Linked DNA regions of Homo sapiens: regions 1 and 2 are each linked to region 3. The links come from fine-mapping of genetic effects on gene expression. A gene starts in region 3. Each other region holds a variant in brackets. All regions are shown on one strand. Distances are between the middles of the regions.

The links. PIP is the estimated chance that this variant, and not a neighbour inherited with it, causes the effect.
Region 1: its variant is fine-mapped to the expression of PMM1 in monocytes after LPS (Quach 2016, PIP 0.95).
Region 2: its variant is fine-mapped to the expression of PMM1 in iPS cells (HipSci, PIP 0.95).

The regions. Positions count from the first base shown.
Region 1 is chr22:41,230,549-41,240,609 of GRCh38, reverse strand. It overlaps CHADL (chondroadherin like), which reads left to right. Exons shown (of 6, transcript NM_138481.2): 2 at 990-1,167; 3 at 1,725-3,434; 4 at 3,960-4,126; 5 at 5,267-5,465. It overlaps L3MBTL2 (L3MBTL histone methyl-lysine binding protein 2), which reads right to left. Exons shown (of 17, transcript NM_031488.5): 17 at 9,339-10,061. Among named protein-coding and RNA genes, the nearest start is that of CHADL, 5.4 kb to the left of the region's middle. RefSeq lists enhancers at 1-76, 1,526-2,113, 2,114-2,702, 2,703-3,291, 3,292-3,880 and silencers at 2,389-2,768, 2,829-2,928. The variant T/AAAT (reference allele first, on the strand shown) is at 6,062.
Region 2 is chr22:41,880,704-41,890,764 of GRCh38, reverse strand. SREBF2 (sterol regulatory element binding transcription factor 2) reads right to left here. Exons shown (of 19, transcript NM_004599.4): 10 at 9,773-10,049; 11 at 5,754-5,923. Among named protein-coding and RNA genes, the nearest start is that of MIR33A, 15 kb to the left of the region's middle. The variant C/A (reference allele first, on the strand shown) is at 5,198.
Region 3 is chr22:41,583,977-41,594,037 of GRCh38, reverse strand. It overlaps PMM1 (phosphomannomutase 1), which reads left to right and starts at 4,198. Exons shown (of 8, transcript NM_002676.3): 1 at 4,198-4,319; 2 at 7,845-7,962; 3 at 9,435-9,511; 4 at 9,666-9,757; 5 at 9,980-10,061. The coding sequence starts at 4,233. RefSeq lists a silencer at 3,850-3,999 and an enhancer at 4,394-5,073.

The DNA.
Region 1 (10,061 bases), 350 kb after region 3:
CCCCATGGGTCCCCTCCCTGGCCTGCCCTGAGGCACAGCCTTCACCACAGGCTCTGGAGAAGCCACCAACTCCAACGCAGGGGCTGGAGCCTGGGACCCAAAGGAGACTCCAAAACAGACGATAGTCCAGTGAGCAGCGAGGGGGAGGCTCCTGGGGGCCGGGGAACAGCCCAGCGATGGGGGAGAGGCCATGCCTGACACAGGCTGAGAACAGAGGGGCCAGCTGGGCAGGGGAGGTGATCTATCATCCTAGCGCTTTGGGAGGCCAAGGTGGGACAATCACTTGAGGCCAGGAGTTCAAGACCAGCCCGGGCAACATAGCGAGACCCTGTCTCTACCAGAAGTAATTAAAAAATTAGCCAGGCGTGGTGGTGTGTGCCTGTAGTCCCAGCTACTCAAGAGGCTGAGGTGAGAGGATCACTTTAGCCCAGGAGGTGAAGGCTGCAGTAAGCCATAGTCATTCCACTGCACTCCAGACTCCAGCCTGGGCAACAGAGCAAGGCTTGTCTCTATTTAAACAAACAAACAAAAAAAGACTCAAGGACCCGGACTGGATGCCTCCCTCCTTTCTGGGGGGTACCATTATGCTCCTGCCACCTGGGAGCTGGCATCATATCAGTCTGAGGACAGGCTGCTTCCGAGCCTACCCTGGACCAGAGCCTCACCACAGCCTGAGAACATGCTCTGAACTGGAGTCATTCTCACAGTCAGCAAGTCCTCACTGAGCCATTGGGCAGAGGCAAAGGGACTAACCAGGTCACTTTTCTGAGCCTCGGTTTCCTCCCATGTAAAACAGGACTAATCATAGGACCTCCACTGCGTGGGGGGTGGGGGGCAGGGAGGCTCAGGGTGATTGGCACTTTCCTGGGCCCAAAGGAGGAGGCTCTGAGGGGTTTTTGGGGCAGGAGCTGCACCATGGCTGGGACTAAGTGAGGGACAGCATGTGGCCTCGGCCCTTGTGCACAACAGACTCTCCCTCCCCGTCCCAGGCCCCGGAGCTCCACCCATGTCCCCTTGGTGCTGCCGCTTCTTGTACTTCTGCTGCTGGCCCCGGCTAGGCAGGCCGCCGCCCAGCGCTGCCCACAGGCCTGCATCTGTGACAACTCCAGGCGACACGTTGCCTGCCGGTACCAGAACCTCACTGAGGTGCCAGACGCCATCCCTGAGGTCAGCAGGGCAGGAGCACAGGCACAGAGTGGCAGTGGGGCAAGGTGGGGACCCAGAGGGAGGAGCCTGGGCTGGGCACCAGTTGATCTGCCACCGCCTGCCCGGGAGACCTTGGCAAATTACTTCTCTTTGAGCCTCAGTTTACACTTCTGTAAAATGGGAATAATAAAAACCAGTAACAGGGAGATGATCTATTTAAAATCCTTACTGTGTGAATGGAATAAGTAGGTGACCCATAGATCGATACTGAATTCACTGCAGACCCTGTGGTGGAGAGGCGGGCTGTGGCAGGGTGAGGTGTGGTCTCTGCTCTGCAGAGTCATCAGCTAGTGGAGGAGAGAGAGCGAGGAGGCAGGGACAGCACAGTGTGAAAAATGCCACAGTGGGTGATGCCCAGGGCACTGGAGAGGAAGGCTTCCTGGAGGAGGTGTCAGGGGTCGGATGAAGAGAAATATGGGAAAGGTGACAGGAGAAAAGAGTGTTCCGGGGAAGAAGCAGCACTTGCAAAGGCGGGGTCCCTGCCTGGCTCAGCCCCACTTTCTCCTCGCTGTCCCCAGCTGACCCAGCGGCTGGACCTGCAGGGCAATTTGCTGAAGGTGATCCCCGCAGCCGCCTTCCAGGGCGTGCCTCACCTCACACACCTGGACCTGCGCCACTGCGAGGTGGAGCTGGTGGCCGAGGGCGCCTTCCGTGGCCTGGGCCGCCTGCTCCTGCTCAACCTGGCCTCCAACCACCTGCGTGAGCTGCCCCAGGAGGCGCTGGACGGGCTGGGCTCGTTGCGGCGGCTGGAGCTGGAGGGGAACGCACTGGAGGAGCTGCGGCCGGGGACGTTCGGGGCACTGGGTGCGCTGGCCACGCTAAACCTGGCCCACAACGCCCTGGTTTACCTGCCCGCCATGGCCTTCCAGGGGCTACTGCGCGTCCGCTGGCTGCGGCTGTCGCACAACGCGCTCAGCGTGCTGGCCCCCGAGGCCCTGGCTGGCCTGCCCGCCCTGAGACGGCTCAGCCTACACCACAACGAGCTCCAGGCTCTGCCCGGGCCTGTCTTGTCCCAGGCCCGCGGCCTGGCCCGTCTGGAGCTGGGCCACAACCCGCTCACCTACGCGGGCGAGGAGGACGGGCTGGCGCTGCCCGGCCTGCGGGAGCTGCTGCTGGACGGCGGGGCCCTGCAGGCCCTGGGTCCCAGGGCCTTCGCACACTGTCCGCGCCTGCACACCCTCGACCTCCGCGGGAACCAGCTAGACACCCTGCCCCCGCTGCAGGGCCCGGGCCAGCTGCGCCGGCTGCGGCTGCAGGGGAATCCGCTGTGGTGCGGCTGCCAGGCGCGGCCCCTACTCGAGTGGCTGGCGCGGGCGCGCGTGCGCTCGGACGGCGCGTGCCAGGGGCCGCGGCGCCTGCGGGGCGAGGCTCTGGACGCCCTGCGGCCCTGGGACCTGCGCTGCCCTGGGGACGCGGCGCAGGAAGAGGAAGAGCTGGAAGAGCGGGCTGTGGCCGGGCCCCGCGCCCCTCCGCGCGGCCCTCCGCGCGGCCCCGGGGAGGAGCGGGCAGTCGCGCCTTGCCCTCGCGCCTGCGTGTGCGTCCCCGAGTCCCGGCACAGCAGCTGCGAGGGCTGCGGCCTGCAGGCGGTGCCCCGCGGCTTCCCCAGCGACACCCAGCTCCTGGACCTGAGGCGGAACCACTTCCCCTCGGTGCCCCGAGCGGCCTTCCCCGGCCTGGGCCACCTGGTGTCGCTGCACCTGCAGCACTGCGGCATCGCGGAGCTGGAAGCGGGCGCCCTGGCCGGGCTGGGCCGCCTGATCTACCTGTACCTCTCCGACAACCAGCTCGCAGGCCTCAGCGCTGCTGCCCTTGAAGGGGCTCCCCGCCTCGGCTACCTGTACCTAGAACGCAACCGTTTCCTGCAGGTGCCAGGGGCTGCCCTGCGCGCCCTGCCCAGCCTCTTCTCCCTGCACCTGCAGGACAACGCTGTGGACCGCCTGGCACCTGGGGACCTGGGGAGAACACGGGCCTTGCGCTGGGTCTACCTGAGTGGAAACCGCATCACCGAAGTGTCCCTTGGGGCGCTGGGCCCAGCTCGGGAGCTGGAGAAGCTGCACCTGGACAGGAATCAGCTGCGAGAGGTGCCCACTGGGGCCTTGGAGGGGCTGCCTGCCCTCCTGGAGCTGCAGCTCTCGGGCAACCCACTCAGGGCCTTGCGTGACGGAGCCTTCCAGCCTGTGGGCAGGTCGCTGCAGCACCTCTTCCTGAACAGCAGTGGCCTGGAGCAGGTGGGCACTGGGCATCTGGCGGGGTTGGTGCAGGAGGCGGCACAAGGCCACAGGCAGCGTGCATTCACTCAACAAGCATTTGCCAGCCCCTTGGTGCCAGGTCTCAGCCTGGGCACGGGGACCCTGAGATAAACCAGGACTGCCCCTACCGGTGTGAGTGACAGTCCGGGCAGAACCCAGGCCACACACGGTGCCTGCACAGGACGGTATTGCTGGAGCATAGAGGAGGGAGGAATTTGGGACCATGCAGTCATCTACTGTTTGTACATATTGAGAGCCCCCAAGAGGTTTTGCCATTATTGGGTGGTGGGGTGGACCATGAACTGGGCATCTGGGTGACTTGGACGGAGCAAGTGTTTTGACATCAGACCAGCCTGGGTTTTGACCCAGCGCTGCACTTCCTGGCTGGACCAGCTTGGGCTCTCCAGCTTCTCTTCTGCTGAGGGAAGATGGGGCTCCCTTCCAGACTTGGGGGTGGGACAGCTCTGCCAGGAGCTCACATTGGGGCCTGGCAACTCCTTGCAGATTTGTCCTGGGGCCTTTTCAGGCCTGGGGCCCGGGCTCCAGAGCCTGCACCTGCAGAAGAACCAGCTTCGGGCCCTGCCTGCCCTGCCCAGTCTCAGCCAGCTGGAGCTCATCGACCTCAGCAGCAATCCCTTCCACTGTGACTGCCAGCTGCTTCCGCTGCACAGGTGGGCACCCCCACCTAGACCTCCAGCCAAAGACCACCCAGCCACTCTCAGTCAAGCCCCTGTCATCTCCCCAGGCACACCATGTCCATGCCCATCCGAGCAGCTTGTGGGGAGGGGCGGGTCCTGTGAGAGCCAGGCATGTATAAGCCCTTTCCAGGGTTAGTTACCCTTCCTGGGGATGTTGAGGGTGGACTTCTCTGAGCCTTGATTTCATCATCCATAAAGTGGGCATGGTATCTGCTCTGCCTAGCGGGCTGGGACCTAATAGGTAGGCGAGACCACTTTACATAATTACATGAGAAAGTCACAAGAGGTCGGGGATGGTGGCTCGCGCCTATAATCCCAGCACTTTGGGAGGCCAATGCAGGCTGATCACCTGAGGTCAGGAGTTTGAGAGTAGCCTGGCCAGCATGGTGAAACTCTGCCTCTACTAAAAATACAAAAATTAGCTGGGCGTGGTAGTGGGTGCCTGTAATCCCAGCTACTTGGGAGGCTGAGGCAGGAGAATTGCTTGAACCTGGGAGGCAGAGGTTGCTGTGAGCTGAGATCGCGCCACTTCACTCCAGCCTGGGCGACAGAGTGAGACTCCATCTCAAAAAAAAATAAAAAGTCACAAGAAGCCTGGAGTCCTGCAGACCTGGGCTCCAGTCCTGGCTCTGGTATTTTACCAACTAACTCTGCAAGCCGCGTAACCTTTCCTGCCCATCTGTAAAAAGGGGGGATGTAGTATCTAACCTCATGATGGTTGTTGTAAGAATGAAATTAGCATAGATAAGTTGATTTGAACAGTGTCTGCTACGTTGTAAGCCCTCTAACTGTTTATTATTACTATTATTATCCCCTTTTTACAAAGAAGGGATCAGAGGCTTGAAGTGGCTTGTAGGTCACATAATTGGTGAGCCGCCAAGATTCTCAGCAGAGCCTGCTGTCACCTATAGGCTCCACCGCTCCCAAATTCCTGGTGGCCTCCTTGACCTCCTCAGGAAAGCTGGCAAATGCTTGTTGAGCGAATGAATGCATGCTGCCTGTGGCCTTGTGCTGCCTTCTGCACCAACCCTGCCCCACACCCAGTGCCCACCTGCTCCAGGCCACTGGAGCAGAATCAGCACAGCTAGCTCCCCAGCTCTCTTTTCTCTTCAGGTGGCTTACTGGGCTGAACCTGCGGGTGGGGGCCACCTGCGCCACCCCTCCCAATGCCCGTGGCCAGAGGGTGAAGGCTGCAGCTGCTGTCTTTGAAGACTGCCCGGGCTGGGCTGCCAGAAAGGCCAAGCGGACACCAGCCTCCAGGCCCAGTGCCAGGAGAACCCCCATCAAAGGAAGACAGTGTGGAGCAGATAAGGTTGGCCATGGGGCAGGAGGGGTGAGACCTTGGTGGGTGGTGGGCCAGGTTCCAAAGTCCCCAGGAAGCAGGAGCCTGACTTGGCTTGGTCCTGATTCATGTGGTTCCAGAGCTGGGCAATGACCCAGTTGCGTCAGTTCAATAATGTCCATCCGAGGCTGGGCGCGGTGGCTCACGCCTGTAATCCCAGCACTTCAGGAGGCCGAGGTGGGCGGATCACGAGGTCAAGAGGTCAAGACCATCTTGGCCAACATGGTGAAACCCCATCTCTACTAAAAAATACAAAAACTATGGCTGGGTGCGTTGGCTCACGCCTGTAATCCCAGCACTTTGGGAGGCCGAGGCGTGCAGATCACGAGGTCAGGAGATAGAGACCATCTGGCTAACACGGTGAAACCCTGTCTCTACTAAAAATACAAAAAAATTATCCGGCTGTGGTGGTGGGCGCTTGTAGTCCCAGCTACTTGGGAGGCTGAGGCAGGAGAATGGCGTGAGCCCAGGAGGTGGACCTTGCAGTGAGCGGAGATCTCACCACTGCACTCCAGCCTGGGCGACAGAGCAAGACTCAAAAACACTCTGTCTCAAAAAAAAAAAAA[T/AAAT]TAGCTGGGCGTGGTGGCGGGCGCCTGTAATCCCAGCTACTTGGGAGGCTGAGGTGGGAGAATCGCTTGAACCCGGGAGGCAGAGGTTGCAGTGAGCAGAGATCACGCCACTGCACCCCAGCCTGGCGACAGGGTGAGACTCCGTCTCAATAATAATAATAATAATAATAATAATAATAATAATGTCCATCCTCCCGTTCTTCCCTCCTCCCTGCCCCCACCTCTGGGCTAGACCCAGGGTGGGTTTGCAAGGAGTGACCATTTGCTCCTGCTGTGGGACAGTGGCCTTTCCTATAAGCCACACTGTGCTGGTCCAGATGTATCCCTAAAATCGGTCCTGCTGTTTCTATATTTGCTGGATCACTGTTGACTCAACCATGTCCCAGCCTGACCTAAGGGGTCTCCCTCATCCCAGGATCCCAGGGATGGGGAGAGTGGAAGTGCAGGTGCATCATTGGCTCTGCCTCCCACCACCTACTAGCCATAGGTTGGACCCCACTTGATAGTACATTCACCATCCTGACATATCTAGTCCCAGCTTGACCCCTCAGTTGTAGCAAACTCACAGCATATCAGAGAAGGGTGCACAAGATACAGGCACCCCCGTATGTAGGAACCACTGCCTGTAAGGCCACGGAGGTGTCCAAAAGGGAGAGGAAGTTCTTCCAGGGAAAGTGAGAATAGAGTGGGGCCTGGGAAGGTGGGGAGAGGGCTCTATCTCCCCTGGACCTGCATTTTGAACATCTGGGATTCCTGGGGCCATTAGTTGGTGTTTGTATTCATCCCCTAGGACTGCCACAACAAAATGCTAGGAGCTGGGTGGCTTAGAACAGCAGAGCTTCTGTAGGCTAGGGGTCAGCCGTTGAGGTGTTGGCAGGGGCGTGCTCTCTGGAACCGGTAGTGCTCTCTGGAACAGGTAGTGGAAGGGTCCCCCTTGCCTCTTCCAGCTTCTGGTGGCCCCAGGTGCTCCCTGATCTGTGGCAGCATAATCTCCATCTCTGTCCCAACCTTCACGTGATGTTGTGTATCATCATCTTCCCTCTATAATCTGTCTCTGCCCAAATTCCACCCCCCCTTTTTTTTTCTGAGATGGAGTTTTGCTCTTGTTGCCCAGGCTGGAGTGCAATGGCACAGTCTTGGCTCACTGCACCCTCTGCCTCCTGGGTTCAAGCGACTCTCCTGCCTCAGCCTCCCAAGTAGCTGAGATTACAGGTGCGTGCCACCACGCATGGCTAACTTTTGTATTTTTAGTAGAGAAGGGGTTTTACCATGTTGGTCAGGCTGGTCTCGAACTCCTGACCTCAGGTGATCCACCTGCCTCAGCCTCCCAAAGTGCTGGGATTACAGGTGTGAGCCACTGCGCCCAGCCAAATTTCCCCTTTTTATAAATATAACAGCCTATTAGATTAGGGCCCAACCTAAGGATGTCATTTTAACTTCATTACTTCTGTAAGGAATCTATTTCCAAGTAAGGTCATACTCTGAGGTACTGGGGTTAGGGATCCAGCCTTTTGGGATGGGCACAAGTCAGTCTATAAAGTGTTCCTAATTTCTGGCTGGGAGCCGGGAAGGAACTCCTGAAAAGACCCCAAGCTGAAGGTAAGCAAGTTCTGCCTTGGAAGCCAGACCCGGAACTATCGTTGATGAGAGCAATACTAATCTCAGTTGGCAGTCACGTGCGCGACTGGGAAATGGCAGCAGTGCTTTCTCCCTGCGTCAGCCCCGGGAGGCTCATGTAGAAGCGGAGCTGGGTTCAGGAGTGGAAGCTCTGATGAGTCCACTTCCAGGTCAGGGCTTTAGTTAAAAGGGAAAGACACCCCGGGTCCCCACCCCTACACACAGTATGATGGCTTTGGAATCAGGACGTCTCAGGCCATTTGACCTAGCCATCCCTTCTGATACTCCTTTCAGTATTGTGGGTTATTTTGATGAAAGTAGCAGTTTCCTCCCAGGAATACAAAGGAATTCAAGGCAGAGGGCTCTTATCTTGAGGCTCAGGCACTGGCATTGTTCCCGGCTGGAGATGCTCGCCTGCTGAAGGCACCAGGATGGACGTCTGCCAGTCTCCCTTGATGCCCGTGTCTAGTTTGGTGTCTGGCACCCAGAAGATGCTCGGGAAGGCTGAATGACTGACTCACGACTAGGTCATCTGGCAGACAAACCTGGGTTCAACCCCACTGCCATCCTTTACAGGTGTAAATTTTTTTTTTTTTTTTTGAGACAGAGTCTCGCTCTGTTGCTCAGGCTGGAGTGCAGTGGTGCAATCTCGGCTCATTGCCACCTCCGCCCCCCAGGTTCAAGTGATTCTCCTGCCTCAGCCTCCCGAGTAGCTGGGATTACAGGTGACTGCCACCACGCCCGGCTAATTTTTTGTATTTTTAGTAGAGACAGGGTTTCATCGTGTTAGCCAGGATGGTCTCGATCTCCTGACCTTGTGATCCGCCCGCCGTGGCCTCCCAAAGTGCTGGGATTACAGGCGTGAGCCACCGCGCCCGGCAACAGGTGTAAATTTAAGCAGCCAAACGACTAAACTGTACTGAGGCTTCTTTTTTCCCATCAGTACTGCACAGGGTTACTGTGAAGGTGAAATGAGCCATTTAGATACCTATTTAACCTGGCACCTGGGTAGGGGCTCTTGATACTATGGAGTTCCCTTGCATCCCTTTCCCTGCAGCAGAGGGGCTAGACTGGATGGCCATAAAGGACAAGGGAGGCAGGGCAGGTTCCTGAAGGGTCTGGATTTGGTCTCACCTGTACCAGGAGCCCCTGTGGGTCCTGAGGCAGAAGCAGGGATGAGGGGTTTGCAAATGCCTCCCTGCCAGCAGCCCCACTGCTCAGACTCCAAGAACTTGAGTTCCCTCCAAGGGCAAACTGAGGCACAAGGTTACTGCATGGATTGAGCAAAAACTCCCAAGAGATCAATACTTCTATCTCCAACAAATCAAGCTGACCTCTAGGCACCAGCAACACGTGGTCATGCGCACATTCCCATTTCACACACACAAGCCAACTTTATGCCAGCCTATGCCAGGTGCTACGCACAGGCGGACACAGGCTCCATCTCTGGGGAACTCACAGTCTTTGGGGAGAATGGCACAACCGTAAAGAATGACAGCATGTGGCTAAGACAGGGAACTTGAGCTGATGACAGGCGACATTTCTTTACGGCCCTGCACACTCGTGTCTTGACTCACGTGGCCTTCATGATCGATACCACGAGGTGGGGGGGTGGGGTCAGAACACAATCTGCAAGGAATAGAGATCTAACAAACGGGACTCAAGCAAGCAGGGGGTTTAATTTCTCACACACAGAGTCTGGGGAGCCCAGTGAGGTTGCAATGGCAGCTAGATGTGTCCTCCAGCTCTGTCATCCTTGTCTTGAGGGTTCTGTGTTCACGGCCCCTCCAGGCATGGTTTCTTCATTTAGGTAGGAACAAAAGGCCAAAAGAACATACAAGCCCAGCTCTCTAGAGGCTCCAGTCAGAACTGGACCCTTTAACTACAAAGGAATCTTGGATGAATTATTTTTAGCGGGGCTTCAGGAGCAGGTAGCAGAGCCAAAGTGCACACTCAGGCCATCTTCCTCCCAATGTCCTCCCCGGGGGCATTTCCTTTAGGAAATGGGAGTCAGTCCTCACAAACACAGAAAGCAGCTCAAGGCCACCACACAGGTCGCCAAAATCCACATCCTGGTCACTGCTTCTTAGCTGCCGAGACAAGCTGGGTCCCCAACATCCCTGGGGAGCTAGGAGGAGCAGAGGACCAACACATGAGGCTGAGAGGCATTCTGCTTGGTGAATTTTTGAGGCAGAGGCTGCCCCCACCACACAACTCACTGTCAGGGGACCTTATCCTGCTCAGAGAGCTGCTCTAGAACTTAATTTACATGGCTCGTTCAGGCAGACAGAGTTCACTGTCTTGTATTCCACAGTGTGACAGTGGTGGCCCCATCCCTGGCAACTGAGGGCCGTGGCGGGTCGGGGGGAGGCCATCTTAAGGA
Region 2 (10,061 bases), 300 kb before region 3:
AGCTAATTTTTATATTTTTAGTAGAGACAGGGTTTCACCATCTTGGCCACGCTGGTGGCTTGGCTTGTAATCCCAAGCCAAAAAAAAAAAAATTTTTTTTTAAGTTTTCCTAAATTTTATAGACACCAGAATCTTCCCCAACTGGGGCCTAGGAGCCTCCCCCTGTAACTCATCTGCTAATTGCCTGATGTGAAAGAGGCTGTGGCAAGAACCCCACAACTGTTTAGATCCTGAGAGCCACTCAGTATCCCTGGGCCAGTCCCAACCCCAGGTTGTGTCCCCTAACATCGGTCTAACCCCATGGCTCTCAAATCGTGTGCCAAGGCAGTCTGAGGTGCCACAGCAAGTGATCAAGGGAGCCACTGGCTATTTTAAACTTTCGAGGAAAACAGTGATGCTCAACATCAGCTGGGCACTGTAAGTGACTAGATGGGGAGAGCATGCAGCCTCAGCATTGAGACCACACTAGCTTCCTTTGGAGATGTGATATCTGTCATAGTACTGTGTGAAAATCAATGTGGAAAAGAGAGAGAGTGATGGTTGCTAGTCTGATTCCAAAGCTTGAGGTGTGCAGTGCTTGACAGGTTCATGTATTGGTAAGAAACAGTGACACCATGCTTGTGAAGAGCCATTCCACTCCAGCCTGGGCAACAGAGTGAGGCTGTATCTCAAAAAATAAATAAATAAATAAAAGAATATTTTGGATTCTTAATAACCATGATTTCTAAGAAATTATTAAGAATCCAAAATATTCTCTCTCTTTCTTTCTTTTGAGACAGAGTCTTGCTCTGTCACCCAGAGTGCAGTGGCACAATCTCGGCTCACGGCAACCTCTGACTCCTGGGTTCAAGTGATTCTGTCTCAGCCTTCCGAGTAGCTGGGATTACAGGTGCGTGCTACGATCCCTGGCTAATTTTTGTATTTTTAGTAGACACGGAGTTTCATCATGTTGGCCAGGCTGGTCTCAAACTCCTGACCTTAGGTGATCCACCCGCCTCAGCCTCCTTAAGTGCTGGGATTACAGGTATGAGCCACCGTGCCCAACCTCTTTTTTTTTTTTTTTAATAGAGACATGGTCTCACTATGTTGTCCAGGCTGGAGTGGAGTGGCTCTATTCACAGGTGTGACCATAGCTAACTGCAGCCTCAAACTCGTGGTTTCAGGAGATTCTCCTACCTCAGTCTCCTGAGGAGCTGGGACCACAGGTGTGTGCTACCACTCCTAGCAAAAAATATTATTTCTTCTTTCAACTTGACATATGATTTTTTCAAATGACCACTAAGCTGTTAAGACAATTTAAATACCTATTAGGATGTTCAAACTTAACTACTTAACAGAGGCCAGGCGCGGTGGTGCATGCCTATAATCCCAGCACTTTGAGAGGCTGAGGTGGGCAGATCGCTTAAGCCCAGGAGTTCGAGACCAGCCTGAGCAACATAGCAAAACCCTGACTTTACAAAAAATACAAAAATAAGCTCGGTGTGGTGGTGTATACCTGCAGTCCCAGCTACTCGGGAGGGTGAGGTGGGATGATCACTTGAGCCCAGAGAGGTTGAGGCTAGAGTGTGCCGTGATTGCACCACTGCACTCCAGCCTGGGCAACAGAGCAAGACACTGTTTCAAAAAACGAAAACCAGAACCGTTAGGTATTTCTTTTGGCTAAGGGATGCCATGAAAAATTTACTGAGACATAGTGAGTAGAGAATGTTTGGGAATCTTGAGTCATGAGTTGAGCAAGTTTGGGAACCTCTAGTCTAAACCATTTTCACAGAGGCCAGCCCTCCACTTGCCCCCAACAACTGGCTCATTTGTAGCTAAATATATCTCACCAAATTCAAAGCTTCTTCCTTTATAAGAAAGTACTGTCTGAGTCTCTTTATCCTCTCTCAAGAGAAGTAAACAGAGAAGAGCAGTTACTTTAAAGATGACAGTTCTCCTTTTTCCATCTTACTGAATATGCAAATTTGGTAATACTATTAAGTTTCAAATATTTATATCCTTTGACACAGCATCACCATCTCTACAGATTTGGTCTGAGGAAACTCTTATGGAGGTGCATGAAGACAATGGACAAAAATGTTCCCTAAAGCACTGTTTATAACGGCAAATACTGGAAACAACCCAAATGTCCATCAGCAGCATCAAGTACCTCTGTAGAATGAAGAGGCTACAAAGAAACACCCAAGATTCATCGTTAGTCACTAAATCTGGAAGACCAACACTTCCAGACATCAAGACGTAAGAGAAAACTCAGCCGTTAGGGTTGGGTGGTGATGGTGCAGTGGAACAGACTAGATCTGGAGGCAGACCCACGGTACACGGATCCTTGATTTATGAAAAAAAGGTGCCACTTGGTGCAGCAGGGGAAGGATAGTTTTTAAAATAACAGGTTCTGCGTCAGGTAGATATCCTTATGGAGAAAAACAGATCTTGCACTCCTACCTCCAACTCTTATAAAAATTAATTCCAGGTGGATTAGGTACATATGTGTAAAGAGTAAAAAATAAAGCGTCTAGCAGACAACATAGGAGAATATCTTCATGACTTTGAGGTAGGACAAAGATTTATTGAACAGGACTTAAAATGTCTAACTGTAAAGGAAAAGACTAATAATCTGGATTTCACTGAAATTAAGAGCTTGTGCTCTCACTAGACACCATTAAGACAGAACAGGCAAGCCCCAGAGTGGGAGAAGGTATCTGAAAAGCATATATCCAATAAAGGGGTAATCTCCAGAATAAAGAATTCCTCTAATCAATGAGACGACAGATAGTCCAAATGAAAAAGAGGTAAGACTTGAATTGAATGTAACGAAACAGACTATCCAAATTGCCAATAAATGTAAGAAGAGGTGCTCAATCTCATTAATCACCTGGGAAGTACAAATGAAAACTACAATGAGATACACTAGAAGGGCTTAAAAAAATTGACATTATATGTGTTCGGTAAGGATGTAGAACTAGAAGTCTTGTTCACTGCTGATGGAGTGGAGAATGGCCAACAATTTGGAAATACGCACAACCTCTGACCCAGCGATGCCATTCCTAAAAATGCAGTCACGTTTCCTGAAAGATGTGTGTACAAGGAGGTTCACAGCAGCACCCTTCATAATAACCAAAGCCAGAAAACAACTAAAAAGTTCATCTGCAATAATCTAGTCATACAATGGAACACTATAAATATGAGAACGAACAATCTATAATTCTACATAACAACATAATGATTCTTACACATGATATTGAGCAAAATAAGTCAGACACAAAACAGTGTATACTGCAAGACTCTCCTTATATTAATATAGTTTAAACAGAGGCAAAGCATCTGAGGTGACTAGGATGGTGGTTACCCTTGGAAGGCTGGAAGGCTTGGGGGAAGGGGCAGGTTAGTGATTGCAAAGGGCCCAAGAGAAGTTTCTGGGGTCTTGGTTCTGTACTTTGATCTGTCTGCTGGCTATAAGGGTGTGTTTACTCTGTGGAGTCACTGAACTGTGTATTTATGATTTGTATACTTTTTGACATGCATATTGTAATCTTTTTTTTTTTTCTTGAGACGGAGTCTCACTCACTCTGTCACCCAGGCTGGAGTGCAGTGGTGCAATCTTGGCTCATTACAACCTCCACTTCCCAGGTTCAGGCGATTCTCCTGCCTCAGCCTCCCAAGTAGCTGGGATTACAGGTGTGCACCACCACATCCAGCTAATTTTTGTTTGTATGTACGTATGTATTTATTTTGAGATGGAGTCTTGCTCTGTTGCCCAGGCTGGAGTGCAATGGCGTGATCTCCGCTCAATGCACCCTCCACCTCCTGGGTTCAAGTGATTCTCCTGTCTCAGCCTCCCAAGTAGCTGAGATTATAGGCACATGCCACCACGCCTGGCTAATTTTTGTATTTTTAGTAGAGACAGGGTTTCATCATATTGGTCAGGCTGGTCTTGAACTCCTGACCTCAGGTGATCTGCTCGCCTTGGCCTCCCAAAGTGCCGGGATTACAGGGGTAAGCCACCGTGCCCGGCCCTCCCAGCCAGACTTCTAAGCATGTACTTTGATAAGTTTACTGAAATGATGAACAATAGACAGATTAAACTCCAGTGACAGAATTCAGAAGAGTGGTTACCTTGGTTGGGGCAGGAAGAGCAGGGAGGGCCTCAAGAAGGCTTCTGGGGGTGCTGGGAATGTTCTACTTCTTGATGTGGGTGGGTGTTGCATGGGTAACTTCACTTCAAGCCGTAAGTTAAAATGTGGGCATTTTTCTGCATGTATGTTGTATTTTGATAAAATGAATGTCTTCAAAACATTTTTGGGGGGCATGGAAGTTACAAATGTAATGACATCAGCCCAGAGCACTTCAATAAACTGAAAAGGAGAGAGATCTCATCAATGCCTCCTGCTGTCAGCCTAGATTCACCTTCCCCAGAAAGCCCACCCTGACTTCCCCCAAGACCAGCTCAGGAGCTCACCCTAGCTCACACTGTCCTGAAGACCTGGTCCCAGGAAGATCTGTCGAGGGAAGGTTGAAATGAATAGGAAGAATGATGTGTCTTCAGTGTCTGTGGACTCCCAGGTCGTCTAGCCCACAAGTGAGGATGGGGTTCTTTCCCCACCTGGAGCCCAGTCCTCCTCATGAGAAGATCAATGTCAAGCTCAAGAAGGGCTGCTGTCTAGATTCCTTGCCAACTATGCTCCCTGAGGACAAGGCAAATGTCCTGCTTAGAGACGGTGCTCAGTCATATTTGCTGAATGAGTGAATCAAGGGATGAGTCTCTTATCTGTAGTCACCAGAAACAGAGGTAAGACATAAAAAGTATCACTTCTCAGCCTTCTGGCTAAGATCAAGTGTAGACATAAAGAGTACACTGGGCTTCCCTGCGCCCTTTGTCCCCTAGACTATCGTGATGTACCTCAGGAAATATATCAATGTCACTACAGGGCACGTTCTGATTCATTCTCAGCTCATCTCTGCTGTTACTGAGATACGGAAACAAATAGAGATGTGGTAATGCTTGAACATACCTGATGTATTCAGCAGTCTATCCATAGTGGGACACAAAGTAAAACATACCTGTTTCTGCTAGAGTAAGAGAAAGCCTGAGGTCAGCATGTTGTGAGCTAGCTGATAACAAGGACCGGGAATTACCCATTTGAGAGTTCCCAAGCCTGGCTCCTAGCTAGGCATATGGGAGGTGCTTGATAGCCACAAT[C/A]CCTGCCCTCGTCTGACCTGAGCTCCTTGTAGACAGGCACAGGTTTTCTTTTACTTTTATTCATTTCATTTTTCTTTTCTTTAACTCTGTAGCTTGGCAAAGGCACTGGCTTTTATTTCTGGATTCACAGTGCTGTGATCAATACAAGATGCCCAATAAATACCTTCTGAGTAAATGAAAGAACCATGAGACATAACCAGGGGATTCTAAGAATTTTTATGACCACTTGAAGAACAGAAAAGTTGCATATTAACCCCCAAGTACAGTAGCTCTGCTATTGCTGAACCAATCTTCATATTACCTCATATTACCTCAGGGGACCAAAATGTCCTGCCTACAAGGCTTATGGTATTAAGGCCACAAGGGGAGGAATTTTGGTCTGTTTTATCGGTTGCTGGGAGTCCTGGTGAAATGAGCGACTGAATGAATGCCTGCCTACCCCTCCAGGTGGGCAGCACCTGATGGGGAAGGGGGTTCATAACTGCTTCTGCATCTTAACTCCTGGCTAGGTAAGTGCTCAGGGGAGGTTTACAGAAGGGAACCGAAGGGTACTCACGGCCAGGAAGCCCAGCTTGCCTCCACACCGGGTCTTGAGCCCCATGGCAGCAGTCAGATGGATCTCAACCAGTGTGCTCGGTGGGATCTTCTCCTCTGCACATTCAGCCAGGTTCACGGCACACAACGCCATGTGTACATCGGAACAGGCGGATCCTGCAGGAAGCTTCCCTAGGGTGGGCAGAAACAGACACTATTGTTGATGGAGCCCCAAAACCAAACTTTTTCCTGCTCTCTCCAGCACGATCAAAGTAAGAGAGGAACCAGGGGAGAAGCGAGGTGAACTTTGTGATCAGACAGGCCTGATCACAGGATGGGATGCCAGGCTCTGTGATATACTGGCTGTGTGTTCCTGTCTACCTCACAGGGTAGCTGGGAACATGGCACCCATTTCTGTCACACCCAGAGCTGTCACAATTGCAGGTTGTTGTATAGGACTCAGAGGCGCACAGTGCAACATAACAATGTCAGCAGCACAGCCACACTGTGTGTTTCCAAACATTCAACAGAGGTAATGAAATTTTTTTTAGATGAACTGATTTGAATTTATTTTCATTAAAAAACCTTCACAATGTGGCTGGGTGCCAGTGGCTCACACCTGTAATCCCAGCACTTTGGGAGGCCAAGGCCGGCGGATCACTTAAGATCAGGAGTTCGAGACCAGCCTGGCAAACACAGTGAAACCCCATCTCTACTAAAAATAGAAAAAATTAGCTGGACGTGGTGGCACACGCCTGTAATTGCAGCTACTTGGAAGGCTGAGGCAGAAGAATTGCTTGAGCCTGCGATGCGGAGGTTGCAGTGAGCTGAGATCGCACCACTGCACTCCAGCCTGGGCAACAGAGCGAGACTCTGTCCCCCAAAAAAGCCAAAAAAAAACCCGCCTTCACAATACACAAACACATACCCGTTTGAGGGGGAAGTGACGTAAACTGAGCAAGGACAGCTGAACACATGTTGGGTTAGTGGGTGGGAGGCCAGGAAGGCTTACCACACCCTCCCCTATGAGAGGTGCACAGTGGCCCATCTGGGGCTGATCCCCTAATCAGGGAACAAAGTATCCTTGCACAGGCACAAGGGCCCATCACAGCTCTCGTGAGGCTTTCATACTGTTGCTGGCTTTGGTCCTCACTACAAGGGCAAGCAGTCTCCTTGCCTCAGGGGAGGAAGTGCCCATGTCAAGGTGCAGACAGTGGCAAAGCCAGGCTTCCCGTGCTCATCCAGCCCTGTGTTCCCCCTCCTGGGCTGCCTTGCCTCCCTGTCTTTTTATCAGCCTAGGGAGATCTCAGCCTCCACACTCCATTCTGTACTGGCCTCAGGTGTTCCTCCTGCAGGAGACACAGGAAGGGAGGTGAGAGGGCAGTGTGGCAACCATACTGTAGTTACCTCTGTCCCCTCAGTGCCTCACACAGGGAATGCCAGTGAGTATGGAAGGAATGAGTGACGTAAAGCTTCTCAGCTGGAATTCTCCAGAATTTGGCAGCAAGGAGGACACAGCCTGATCAGAGACCTGAGTATGGGCTTATTCTGTCCCAAGGGCACACTGAGGAACAGACAAGATAACAGCGGGGCAAATTTGCAGATAGGGACCTTCTGCTAAAATTCTACCATGAGCCCACATATTAAAGCTGCACAATGGCCCCACTGTCTCATCTCCTGGTCACTCCTACATCACTTGCCTGGCTCTGTTCCACTTTTGGCTGAAGCTCCTTACTGCCATCAAGGTATCTAACACCTTCCAGTTACCACATCCTACTGTTATTCCTGGCCCTCATCTTACTGGGTGTCCCAGCAACAATCTCCCCTCCTCAACTCTCTGACCTTGCTCCTCCAACACTTAGCATCTCAGTGTCTCCTCAGACCTCTCCAACTGCTCCTCTCAGGCAGCCTCTGCCCCTGACTCCCCATCCTCTATCTGTTCATCTCTGCATGCATGTGCAGTGGCACAATCACAGCTCGCTGCAGCCTCGATCTACCTCCCAGGCTCAAGTGATCCTCCCACCTTGGCCTCTCAAGTAGCTGGAACCACAGACACACACCACAAAAACCAGCTAATTTTTTGAATTTTTTTTGGAGAGATGGAGTCTCCCCGTGTTTCCCAGGCTGATGGGAAACTCCTGGGCTCAAGCGACCTTCCTTCCTTGACCTCCCAAAGTTCTGAGATTACAGATGTGAACTGCTGTGCCAGCCTTTATCCTTTCTTTTTGAGATGGAGTTTTGCTCTTGTTGCCCAGGCTGGAATGCAGTGGTGCCATCTTGGCTCACTGCAACCTCCACCTCCTGGGTTCAAGTGATTCTCCTGCCTTAGCCTCTCGAGTAACTGGGATTATAGGCACGTGCCACCACACCCGGCTAATTTTTGTATTTTTAGTAGAGACAGGGTTTTGCCATGTTGGCCAGGCAGGTCTCGAACTCCTGACCTCAGGTGATCCACCTGCCTTGGCCTCCCAAAGTGCTGGGATTACAGGTGTGAGCCACCGCGATGGCCTATCTGTTCTTTAGATGAGGGTGTTCTTCTGAATGGCCCTGAGGGTCTCCTTTTCACCTATCCACTCTCATAGGCTCCCTTGCTTTTCACTCTCACCTGTAGTCTTCTTTGGGCTGTAGATCCTGCATGTCCAGCTCACCTCCACATCTCACAGGCAAGTGTCCAAAAGGGAACTCACCACCCTTTTCCTGGAAAGTTGCTCTTCCTTCTATTTTCTTTACCTTTGTTGGTGGCACCATCGCTCACCCAAACTCCCAAGGAAGAACCAGGGAACCGTCTTAGCTGACTACTGTCCCCATCCATCAGTCCAATGAGTCCCCAGTCCAGTCAATTCCACCTTCTAATTTCCTCTCATCTGTCCTTTCAGCAACTCTCATCTTTAATCTGCATCAGCTTCTATTTGGCCTCTCTAGCTCTAGCCTTGATCCTCTGGGATCCACTCCTTATCTGCCATCAGAGTGAATCTTCTAAACTTTTTTTTTTGGAGTGCTATGGTGCAATCTTGGCTCACTGGAGCCTTGATCTCCCAGGCTCCAGTGATTCTCCCACATCAGCCTCCTGGGTAGCTGGGATTACAGGTGTGCATCACCAAGCCTGGCTAATTTTTGTATTTTTTGTAGAAATGGGGTTTTGCCACGTTGTCCAGGCTGGTCTCGAACTCCTGAGTGCAAGTGATCCTCCTGCCTCAGTCTCCCAAAGTGCTGGGACTACAGGTGTGAGCCAGCTACCATGCCCAGCCTGACTCTTCTAAACTTGAGAAGCACAAACCTGATCATATCACTATTTTCCTAATGCTCTTCACTGAATCCTACTGATACACTACAAGATCCTCAGCCTGGCATCCAAATCCTTCATGGTCTGAGTACTGCCTTTGTGCCCTGGCTCCCTCTAGGACCACTGAAGGCTTATTCTCAAGAGCCACCCCAGGTGGGGCTCCTCCTTGGGAACATCCCTCTGCCCAGAGGCTCATCTCCTGCAGAGCTGGTGACCTCTATGCATCCTTCCATGCAAAGCCAAGACTCTACTTCCCCAGAAAACCTTTCTTGAAACCCTCCAAACGGGTACCCACTCCCTCCCAACGAAAACATGTTCCTTCTGCTAAGTCTAACATACTCACGCTGAACTGTCATTCATTTGTTGACCTCTCTGCCTATTATAGCAGGAGCTTACTGAATGAAACAGATGATCATATTTCATTGACTCTAAGATGTCAGCAATTTTAAGTCTCACCATTAATTTAAGTATCACTAAAGAAAAACACTGCCAACTTATCTACAATGTGCCACTGTTTATAGGACACATCCTGAGTATAGTGATGTTATTGTGAAAACATGTGCATCTGAGAACTGATGAGCTAAAGCAAAGAGCCAACCTTACAGCTGTGAAAACAGGTAGAAGCTTGGTCTAGCCACTCTAAAAGAGTAGCGTTAAAGGGACTTCAGCTAGGGTGCAGAACTGGCAAATCAAGCTAAGGAGGAGAGGTAGCATGAGATGCCTTGCAGCAAGCCAGGCAGCAGCAGCTGCCCCCTCACCTGTGATGTGCAGCTGGTGCAGCCGGTGATAGGCCAGAGCCGCATCCCGGGCGCTGGTCTTAGCTTCGTCTTCAAAGCCTGCCTCAGTGGCTGGCGTGGCCCGCCGGCACTGGAAGACTTTCTTGAGCAGCCAGCGCACCAGGCGTAGCTTCTGCAGGCTGTAGCGGATCACGTTCCAGGAGAGGCTGCAGGCCAGGTCCAGGCGGGAGGTGGGCAGTGCCCGGCCCAAAACTGCCAGGCAGGTTTGTAGGTTGCCGGCAGCAGCTGCAAAATCTCCCTACAAAGTATC
Region 3 (10,061 bases):
TGTATTTACAATCCCTTAGCTAGACATAAAGGTTCTCCAAGTCCCCACCAGACTCAGGAGCCCAGTTGGCTTCACCCAGTGCATCTTGTACCGGGGCTGCAGGTGGAGCTGCCTGCCAGTCCCGCGCCGTGCGCCCGTACTCCTCAACCCTTGGGTGGTCGATGGGACTGGGCGCCATGGAGCAGGGGGCGGCGCTCGCCGGGGAGGCTCTGTCTGCGCAGGAGCCCACGGCAGAGGGTAGGCTCAGGCATGGCGGGCTGCAGGTCCGATCCCTGCCCAGCGGGGAGGCAGCTAAGGCCCTGTGAGAAATCGAGCGCAGCGCCGGTGGGCCGGCACTGCTGGGGGACCCGGCGCACCCTCCACAGCTGCTGGCCCGGCTGCTAAGCCCTTCACTGCTCGGGCCGGCACGGCCTGCCGCTCTGAGTGCGGGGCCCGCCAAGCCCACGCCCACCCAGAACTCTAGCTGGCCCGCAAGCGCCGCTTGCAGCCCCGGTTCCCGCCCGTGCCTCTCCCTCCACACCTCCCCGCAAGCCGAGGGAGCCGGCGCCGGCCTCGGCCAGCCCAGAGAAGGGCTCCCACAGTGCAGCGGCGGGCTGAAGGGCTCCTCAAGCACGGCCAGAATGGGCGCCGAGGCTGAGGAGGCACCAAGAGTGAGCGAGGGCTGCTAGTACGCTGTCACCTCTCATCACCTTTCATAGTTCTATCACGTGGGGTTTATATCCTCATTACATATAAAGAAACTGAAGCCCAGTGAGGAAAGGTGACCTGTCCAAGTCCTTGTAGTTAGCCAGGACCAAACTGCAGTTCTCCTGATTCCAACTCCAATGATCTCTCCAGGACACCATAGCTACCCAGTCAGAAAAACAAGAATTGTGCCTGGGGATCTGGTGCGGTGGGTCAGGCCTGTAATCCCAACACTTTGGTCACGCCTGTAATCCCAACACTTTGGGAGGCTGAGTCGTGAGGACCATTTGAGGCCAGGAGTTTGAGAGCAGCCTGGACAAAATAGTGAGACCCTATTCTACACACACACGTGCACACGCACACAAACACAATGCAGATTTTCATGGCTTCGTAGCATTTCATCTTCTAGATGGGTCTTAGTTCATTTAAACAATTCCATATATTTTTCCTTTTTTCTATTTTCTTTTCTTTCTTTTTTTTTTGAGACGGAGTCTGCTCTGTTGCCCAGGCTGGAGTGCAGTGGCGTGATCTCGGTTCACTGCAAGCTCCGCCTCCCAGGTTCACACCATTCTCCTGCCTCAGCCTCCCAAGTAACTGGGACTATAGGCACCCGCCACCACGCCCAGCTAATTTTTTGTATTGTTAGTAGAGATGGGGTTTCACCGTGTTAGCCAGGATGGTCTCGATCTCCTGACCTCGTGATCCGCCCACCTCAGCCTTCCAAAGTGCTGGATTACAGGTGTGAACCACCGCGCTTGGCCTTTTTTTTTTTTTTTCCGAGTCAGAGTCTCGCTCTATGGCCCAGGCTGGAGTGCAGTGGTGTGATCTCGGCTCACTGCAAGCTCCGCCTCCCGGGTTCAAGGGATTCTCCTGCCTCAGCCTCCCGAGTCGCTGGGACTACAGGTGCCGCCACTACGCCTGGCTAATTTTTTGTATTTTTAGTAGAGACGGGGTTTCACCACGTTAGCCAGGATGGTCTCGATCTCTTGACCTTGTGGTCTGCCTGCCTTGGCCTCCCAAAGTGCTGGGATTACAGGCGTGAGCTACCGCGCTCAGCCTCTTTTCCTATTTTCTAAAAGTTGAATTGCTGACTCATATGATCTGCATCTTTTTTTTTTTTTTTCTTGAGACAGGGTCTCACTACTGTTACCCAGGCTGGAGTGCAGTGGGAAGATCTGGTTCGTTGCAGCCTCAGCTTCCTGGTGATTCTCCTACTTTAGCCTCCTGAGGGACCACAGGTGCCTGCCACCATGCCTGGCTAATGTTTTGTATTTTTAGTAGAGACAGCATTTTGCCATGTTGCCCAGGCTGATCTTGACCTCCTGGGTTCAAACAATCCACCCACCTTGGCCTCCCAAAGTGCTGGAATTACAGGTGTGAGCCACCGCATCCAGCTCTACAGTTATTTTTTATTTATTTAGTTAGTTAGTTAGTTAGTTAGTTTGTTTGTTTGAGGTGTAGTCTCCCTCTGTCTCCCAGGCTGGAGCGCAGTGGCATCATCTCGGCTCACTGCAACCACCGCCTTCCAGGTTCAAGTGATTCTTCCGCCTCAGCCTCCCAAGTAGCTGGGATTACAGGCTCCTGCCACCATGCCCGGCTAATTTTTGTATTTTTAGTAGAGACGGACTTTCCCCATGTTGGCCAGGCTGGTCTCAAACTCATGACCTCAGGTGATCTGCCCATCCCGGCCTCCCAAAGTGTTGGGATTACAGGCGTGAGCCACCGCGCCCAGCCTGTTACTTATTTTCATGTGAAAAGCAAACCTACAAAGCAGGTGGTGTTCATCCCATTTTATAGGTGAAGACACAAAGCCTCTGAGAGGTGAAGTGACTTGTCCAAGGTCCCATAGTGGTGGAGCTGGGAAGGCAACCTGGAAGTGACTCCAAAGTCAACGCAATGGTTAAATAATTGTGAATCGAATCTGGGAAGGTTGGCTGGGAACGGTGGCTCATGCCTGTATTCCCAGCACTTTGGGAGGCTGAGGCAGGCAGATCACCTGAGGCCAGGAGTTCGAGACCAGCCTGGCTAACATGGTGAAAATACAAAATTACTACTAAAAATAAAAAATTAGCCGAGCGTGGTAGTGGGTACAAAATAATCCCAGCTACTCGGGAGGCAGAGGTTGTGGTGAGCTGAAATCGTGCCATTGCACTCCAGCCTGGGCAACAAGAGCAAAACTCCGTCTCAGAAAAAAAAAAAAAATTAGCCGGGCGTGGTGGCGCACTTCTGTAGTTTCAGCTACTCAGGAGGCTGAGGCAGGAGAATCACTTGAACCTGGGAGGCGGAGGTTGCAGTGAGCCGAGATCATGCCACTGCACTCCAACCTGAGTAACAGAGTGAGACCCAGTCTCAAAAAATAAATAAATAAATAAATAAATCGCCCTGTGTCAAAAATAAAATAAAATAAACATAAAAGTAAGTAAAAATACAAAAATTAGGTGGGCATGGTGGCACACGCCTGCAGTCCCAGCTACTCGGGAGGCTGAGGCATGAGAACCGCTTGAACCTGGGAGGTGGAGGTTGCAGTGGGCAGAGATCCCGCCACTGCACTCCAGCCTGGGCAGAGCGAGACTCTGTCTCAAAAAAAAAAAAAAAAAAGAAGAATCTGGGAAGGTCTCCAAGCAGGTAGACCCTGAGAGCTGGGTCTTATGTGTGGACAGAAGGAATAAGGCTCGGGGAAGGCAATTTGGCAAAGTCCAAAGCCTGAACAAAGGCCTTCAGGAGATTTCTTTTCTTTTCTTTTCTTTCCTTTTTTTTTTTTTTTTTTTTTTTTGAGGCTGGAGTGCAATGGCGCGATCTCGGCTCACCGCAACCTCTGGCTTCTTTGGAATCAAGCGATTCTCCTGCCTCAGCCTCCTGAGTAGCTGAGATTACAGGCATGCGCCACCACGCCTGGCTAATTTTGTATTTTTAGTAGAGACGAGGTTTCTCCATGTTGGTCAGGCTGGTCTCGAACTCCCGACCTCCGGTGATCCGCCCGCCTCGACGTCCCAAACTGCTGGGATTACAGGCGTGAACCACCGCGCCCGGCTCAGGAGATTTCCTACAGCTCAAAATTTGTAAGGCAAAGAGATGGCCACAAACCTTGTGAGAGTGGATGGGGAGCGACCTCGGCTCTCTTAGTCCCGCCTGGCCCACTAGACACTGCACTGCATGGTAGAGGCCCCGCCCGACCCAGCCCCTTAATCGGCCTGTTGCAATCACTATCAACCCGCCAATTCTGGCCCCGCCCCTGTCTTCCGGGTTCACCCTCTCACTTCCTGCGGGTCCCAGGCTCAGGCCCCTCCTCCGCCTTGTTTGGAGCAATCCAATCGAACCTGGAGGGCTCCGCTCCGCCCTATGCCGCGCTCCCCTCCTCCACGAGCAATGAGAATCAGCTCAGGCCCCGCCCCCGCTTCCGCCCGCCTAGACCACGCCCCTTCTTCATTTGGCCAATCAGGCAGTCCACTGGCCCCCGCCCCCTAATGCCCCGCCCCGTCAGCACTTATCCCTGAGCTGCTTCTGCCGTTGCATCTTCGGGACTCCGCCCCGCGCGCGGACCTGCAGCCATGGCAGTCACCGCCCAGGCAGCCCGCAGGAAGGAGCGCGTCCTCTGCCTGTTTGACGTGGACGGGACCCTCACGCCGGCTCGCCAGGTAGGACCCTGAAGATTGGAAGCTCCCACCGGGAGTGTCACGCGGACACCCCCGAGGCTGAGTGTGGGGTCTGCAGCAGCGTGACCGTGGACACCCGGGGACCGAGTGTGGGATGCGGCGGTACCCGGCCCCCTGACATCCGGGGCCACCCACCGGGAGTGAGGGGACCTGGCCCTCACGTCACTGACCCCGCAGCGTCCTTGCCTGTGTTCTGCTTGGGAGTGCTGGGGTTGGATCCAGTACTGGAGGGAGGAGGCTGCGAGCAGGGGCCTAGCTCCCTCCCTCCCCGGAGGCTGTCACACGCCGCTAAGGCCTGGCTCACGGACGCCCCCGCCTCCTGAGCTGGGGATCCCACCCTAGTTCAGCCCTACGACACACCAGTGGTCGGAGCTGGCTTCTGAACCGGGGTTCCAGGCACACAAGCACACAGCCAAGCGTCAGTCATCATCTGGTGGGAGACAGGGCGTCTCGGAGTCTTCCCACCCCGACCTTTGCAGGCCTGGGACTGGGTCTAGTTTCTGAAGCCCCATCACCCACTTTACCTTCCACCCCCAGTCGTGGAGCAGAGAGGGCTTCTTTTCAAATTCGTTTATGAGCTCTACCCACCCGGATGTGAGAGGCTCCAGGCCTAGCCTGTTTGCTGTGAGGACACTGAGGAATAGTGAGGGTAAGAGTCTAGTTTTCTTCTAAAGACTCTCGCTGTGTTGAGCCTCTTACCTCTGCTCAGTTTTTCTCCCATTGGGTCTCATTGTGAGTGAGTCCCCAAAAGCCCCCTCACCAGCTGGATGCATCAGTAAGCAGGCTTCATTCATGCCCTCCCTGTGGGTAACCCACCCTCCAGTCTGGGGGCCTCAAGGACCAACCAACAGGTCTCCTAGCGTGGGGGAGCAGTGGGATGGGCTTTACTGGGCAGTGGCTGATGGGAACCCAGGTCTTAGCCTCCTCTCTTAGGTCCCGAATGCCCCTCCCCATCCTCTGTGGTGAAGTTGCCCTGGCTTGGGCCCTGGAGGCCTTCCTGCAGGGGTGGATCCGGGAGGAAGATAGCAGGACTGGAGCAAAGGTGGGCCATTTGCTTGTGGGTCACGCCTGTAATCCCAGCACTTTGGGAGGCCATGGTGGGCAGATCACCTGAGGTCAGGAATTCTAGATCAGTCTGGCTAACATGGTGAAACCCCGTCTCTACTAAAAATACAAAAATTAGGCTGGGTTCAGTGGCTCACGCCTGTAATCCCAGCACTTTGGGAGGCCGAGGCAGACAGATCACGATGTCAGGAGTTTAAGACCAGCCTGACCAATATCGTGAAACCCTATCTCTACTAAAAATACAAAAAATTAGCCAGGCGTGGTGGCATGCACCTGTAATCCTAGCTAGTCGGGAGGCTGAGGCAGGAGAATCACTTGAACCCGAGAGGCAGAAGTTGCAGTGAGCCGAGAATGTGCCATTGCACTACAGCCTGGGCGACAGAGGGAGACTCAGTCTCAAAACAAAACAAAACAAAAAGTAGATGGGCGTGGTGTCGTGTGCCTGTAGTCCCAGCTACTGGGGAGGCAGAGGCAGGAGAATCGATTGAACCCAGGAGGTGGAGGTTGCAGTGAGCCAAGATTGTGCCATTGCACTCCAGCCTGGGCAACAAGAGTGAAACTCCGTCTCAAACAAACAAATAAATGAATAAAAGAACTGGAACAAAAGTGGCAGGGCCTAGGCACAGTTCTGACTCCTCCCTCTGACCTTTTGCTCCACAAACATAACAACCTGAATAAGAACAGCCTATTAATTTGTCTACGGGCCAGCCTCTGTGCTTAGTGCCTTTTGAAAGTTAATTTTTAATCGTACACATTTTCATGAGCACACTCTCCTGGTAAAGAATGGAAACGTAACAGAGAAGGGTAAAGTCCACTCTGACCGCACTTGGGGAGCCTGGCCGGCTCCCCAAGTTAATGTGGTTACTGTGGTGTGGCTTCCCTCCAGGCCTTTATCTGGATCTATTTGCCCAGAGCAAATATTAAGCATTGTTTTGTGAGGCTATTTTTGTTATTGTTCTTTGGCTCCTCAAAAATCAACTTGATTGTGATGCTATTTTGTTGTTGTTGTTGTTAGAGACCGGGGTCTCACTCTGTCACTCAGTCTGGAGTGCAGTGGCGCTATCACAGCTCACTGCAGCCTCGAACTCCTGGGCTCAAGTGATTCTCCCGCCTCAGCTTCTGGAGTAGCTGGTAGCTGGGACTACAGGCAAGTGCCACCATGCCTGGCTAATATCTTTTTTTTTTTTTTTTTTTGGAGATGAAATCTCATTCTTGTCCCCCAGGCTGGAGTGCGATGGCATGATCTCGGTTCACTGCAACCTCCACCTCCCGGGTTCAAGGGATTCTCCTGCCTCAGCCTCCTGAGTAGCTGGGATTACAGGCGCTTGCCACCACGCCCAGCTAATTTTTTTTTCTTTTTTTTTTTGAGACGGAGTCTCGCTCTGTCGCCCAGGCTGGAGTGCAGTGGCGTGATCTCAGCTCACTGCAAGCTCTGCCTCCCAAGTTCACGCCATTCTCCTGCCTCAGCCCTCCCGAGTAGCTGGGACTACAGGCGCGTGCCACCACGCCCGGCTAATTTTTTTGTATTTTTTAGTAGAGACAGGGTTTCACCATGTTAGCCAGGATGGTCTCAATCCCCTGACCTTGTGATCCACCCGCCTCGGCCTCCCAAAGTGCTGGGATTACAGGCGTGAGCCACCGCGCATGGCCAATTTTTTTTTTTTTTTTTTTTTAATTTTTAGTAGAAACAGAGTTTCACCATGTTGGCCAGGCTGGTCTCGAACTCCTGACATCAAGTGATCCACCCTCCTGGGCCTCCCAAAGTGCTGGGATTACTGGTGTGAACCACCGTGCCAGCCCATGCCTGGCTAATTTTTAAAAACTTTCGGCCAGGCACGGTGGCTCACGCCTATAATCCCAGCACTTTGGGAGGCCCAGGCGGATGGATCACCTGAAGTCAGGAGTTCAAGACCAGCCTGGCCAACATGGCGAAACCCTGTCTCTACTAAAAATTTAAAACTTAGCTGGGCATGGTGGCAGGCGCCTGTAATCCCAGCTACTCGGGAGGCTGAGGCAGAAGAATCGCTTGAACCCGGGAGGCAGAGGTTGCAGTGAGCTGAGATCACGCCATCGCACTCCAGCCTGGGCAGAGGTTTCAGTGAGCCAGAATCACACCACTGCACTCCAGCCTGGATGACAGAACAAAAATTCGTCTCCAAAAAAATTTTTTTTTTCATAGAGACAATGTCTTCCTTTGCTGCCTAGGCTCTAGTCTCAAACTCCTGGGTCAAGTGATCTTTCTGCCTTGGCCTCGCAAAGTGTTGGGATTGCAGACCTGAGCCACAGTGTCCAACCTGTCTAATTTTTGGTGTCTAAGCTTTGTACTGCTTCAGATCCAGGTAGAATGTGGGCTTCCTGGGTTCTCAGCACTAAGTGAGGGCTAAGTGGAGGTCCCAGACATGTTGAAAGCCAGAATGCTATGCTTCCCCTCTCCCCCCATAGAAAATTGACCCTGAGGTGGCCGCCTTCCTGCAGAAGCTACGAAGTAGAGTGCAGATCGGTGTGGTGGGCGGCTCTGACTACTGTAAGATCGCTGAGCAGCTGGGTGACGGGGATGAAGGTAGGAGTGAGGCTGGGGGTAGAGGGAGTGGGGAGTTTGAGAGATTCCTGGGCGTCTTCAAAGATCCAGTCCTGCTTCTGTGGGGCAGAAGAAATAGAGAGAGAGCAGCCAGATAGTTCCCTTACTGATTTGACAAACACTTGAGCACTTCCTATTGCCAGGGATTGTGCCAGGCCCTTGAGAAATGGCTGGGGCAAAGCAAGCAGAACCTGCCCTTATGCAGTTTACATTCTCATTTCTCCCTGCTGAGTCTTGATTTCCTCATCTTTAAAATGGGCTGAACCAGCCGGCACAGTGGCTTACGCCTGTAATCCCAGCACTTTGGGAGGCCGAGGCGGATGGATCACTTGAGATGAGGAGTTCAAGACCAGCCTGGCCAACATGGTGAAACCCCGTCTCTACTAAAAATACAAAAAATTAGCTGGGTGTGTTGGCACGTGCCTGTAATCCCAGCTACTCGGGAGGCTGAGGCAGGAGAATCGCTTGAACCTGGGAGGCGGAGGTTGCAGTGAGCCAAGATCAGGCCACTGCACTCCAGCCTGGGTGACAGAGTGAGGCTACACATCCAAAAATAAATAAATAAATAAATAAATAAATAAATAAATAAATAAAAGGGCAGAACCAATGATGGCTACCATTTGTCAAAAATGATCATGTGTTAATGTCATTGCATTTGATCCCCACAATCACACTTTAGAGTAGGCGTGATCATCCCATTTAACAGAGGATGACTCTGAAGTTATCCAGGAAATCGACTGGACCTCAGAGCCCCTGGTCTCAGCCCAGTCAAAGTGGGTGCCTCCAGTTCCTCAAGCCAGAAACTTCCTCGAATTTTTCCTTTTCCCCACCTCTTGTTTATTCCATCAGCAAACCCCAAAATATCTCCCTGTCCCCTCTGTCTCCATCTCCACCACGCCATCATAGTCCAGGTAACCACGTGCCACCCAGACCCCGCAACAGCCTCTGGGCTGTGCTCCCTGTGCCTCCCACCTCCCACCCACTCCAACTGCTTCGCCTGGCAGTCAGAGCTGAAACCTCCAACTCTCCCATGCAGCCAGCCTTGAGAACCCAGTGCGATGGCAGCTATAGAACAGAAGGGAGCCCCTCTGCAGAGGGGCAGGGGAGCACAGAGTGGAAATGATGCCCTCTGCCAGAGAGTACTGCATGGCTTCCAGAGGAGGAAGCTGAATCTTGGAGGATGAGTGGCAGGGAAGCCAGGGAAGGGCGGTTCTGACAGAAGGACCTGCATGGATGCCTGTGTGCAGAGGCCCACAGGTGTGACTGGCTTCTTTGGAAGAAAACCAAGCTGCAGAGGGAGAAAGGCTGGAGAAGCAGGTTGTAGCCTCAGATTGAACAAATGGCCTTTGAATGTGAAACCAAGGGTGTAGGCTTCCTCTCTCTTTACTTGCCCGTGGGGTCACAGACGTGGTCTCACACTCTTTCTTCCTCCTGTCCTCTATGTGACCCTGAAGTCATTGAGAAGTTTGATTATGTGTTTGCCGAGAACGGGACGGTGCAGTATAAGCACGGACGACTGCTCTCCAAGCAGGTCAGTGTCCCCCAGGGCTTAGCCAGGGGCACCCCACTTTTCCATAGTGGAGCAGTCCAAGGGGGCTTCTGTCCTGGGCTGGGGGAGAGACACTGTGCCTGTCTCAGGGTCAGGCAGCCCAGGCCACGCTCAGAGCCCTGTGTTCCTTGGCCAGACCATCCAGAACCACCTGGGGGAGGAGCTGCTGCAGGACTTGATCAACTTCTGCCTCAGCTACATGGCCCTGCTCAGGCTGCCCAAGAAGCGGTGAGGTCCCACCAGCCTGGTCTCCAGAACCTGGGGCCTGAGGGAGGAGAAGTGTGGGTCCCTCAGAGGGAACCTGGAGATACTTGGGCCCCTGATTTTTTGCGGGGAGTGTGGATTCTTGTCCCCTTTGAAGTCCTAGGAGGCTGGGGTCCCAGGTGGGGCTAGATTTGAATTCAGGGCCGTTCTGGTTCTCTCTGGCTCCCCGCCCTCCCTCACCACCAGTGGAACCTTCATCGAGTTCCGGAATGGCATGCTGAACATCTCGCCCATCGGCCGGAGCTGCACCCTGGAGGAGAGGATCGAG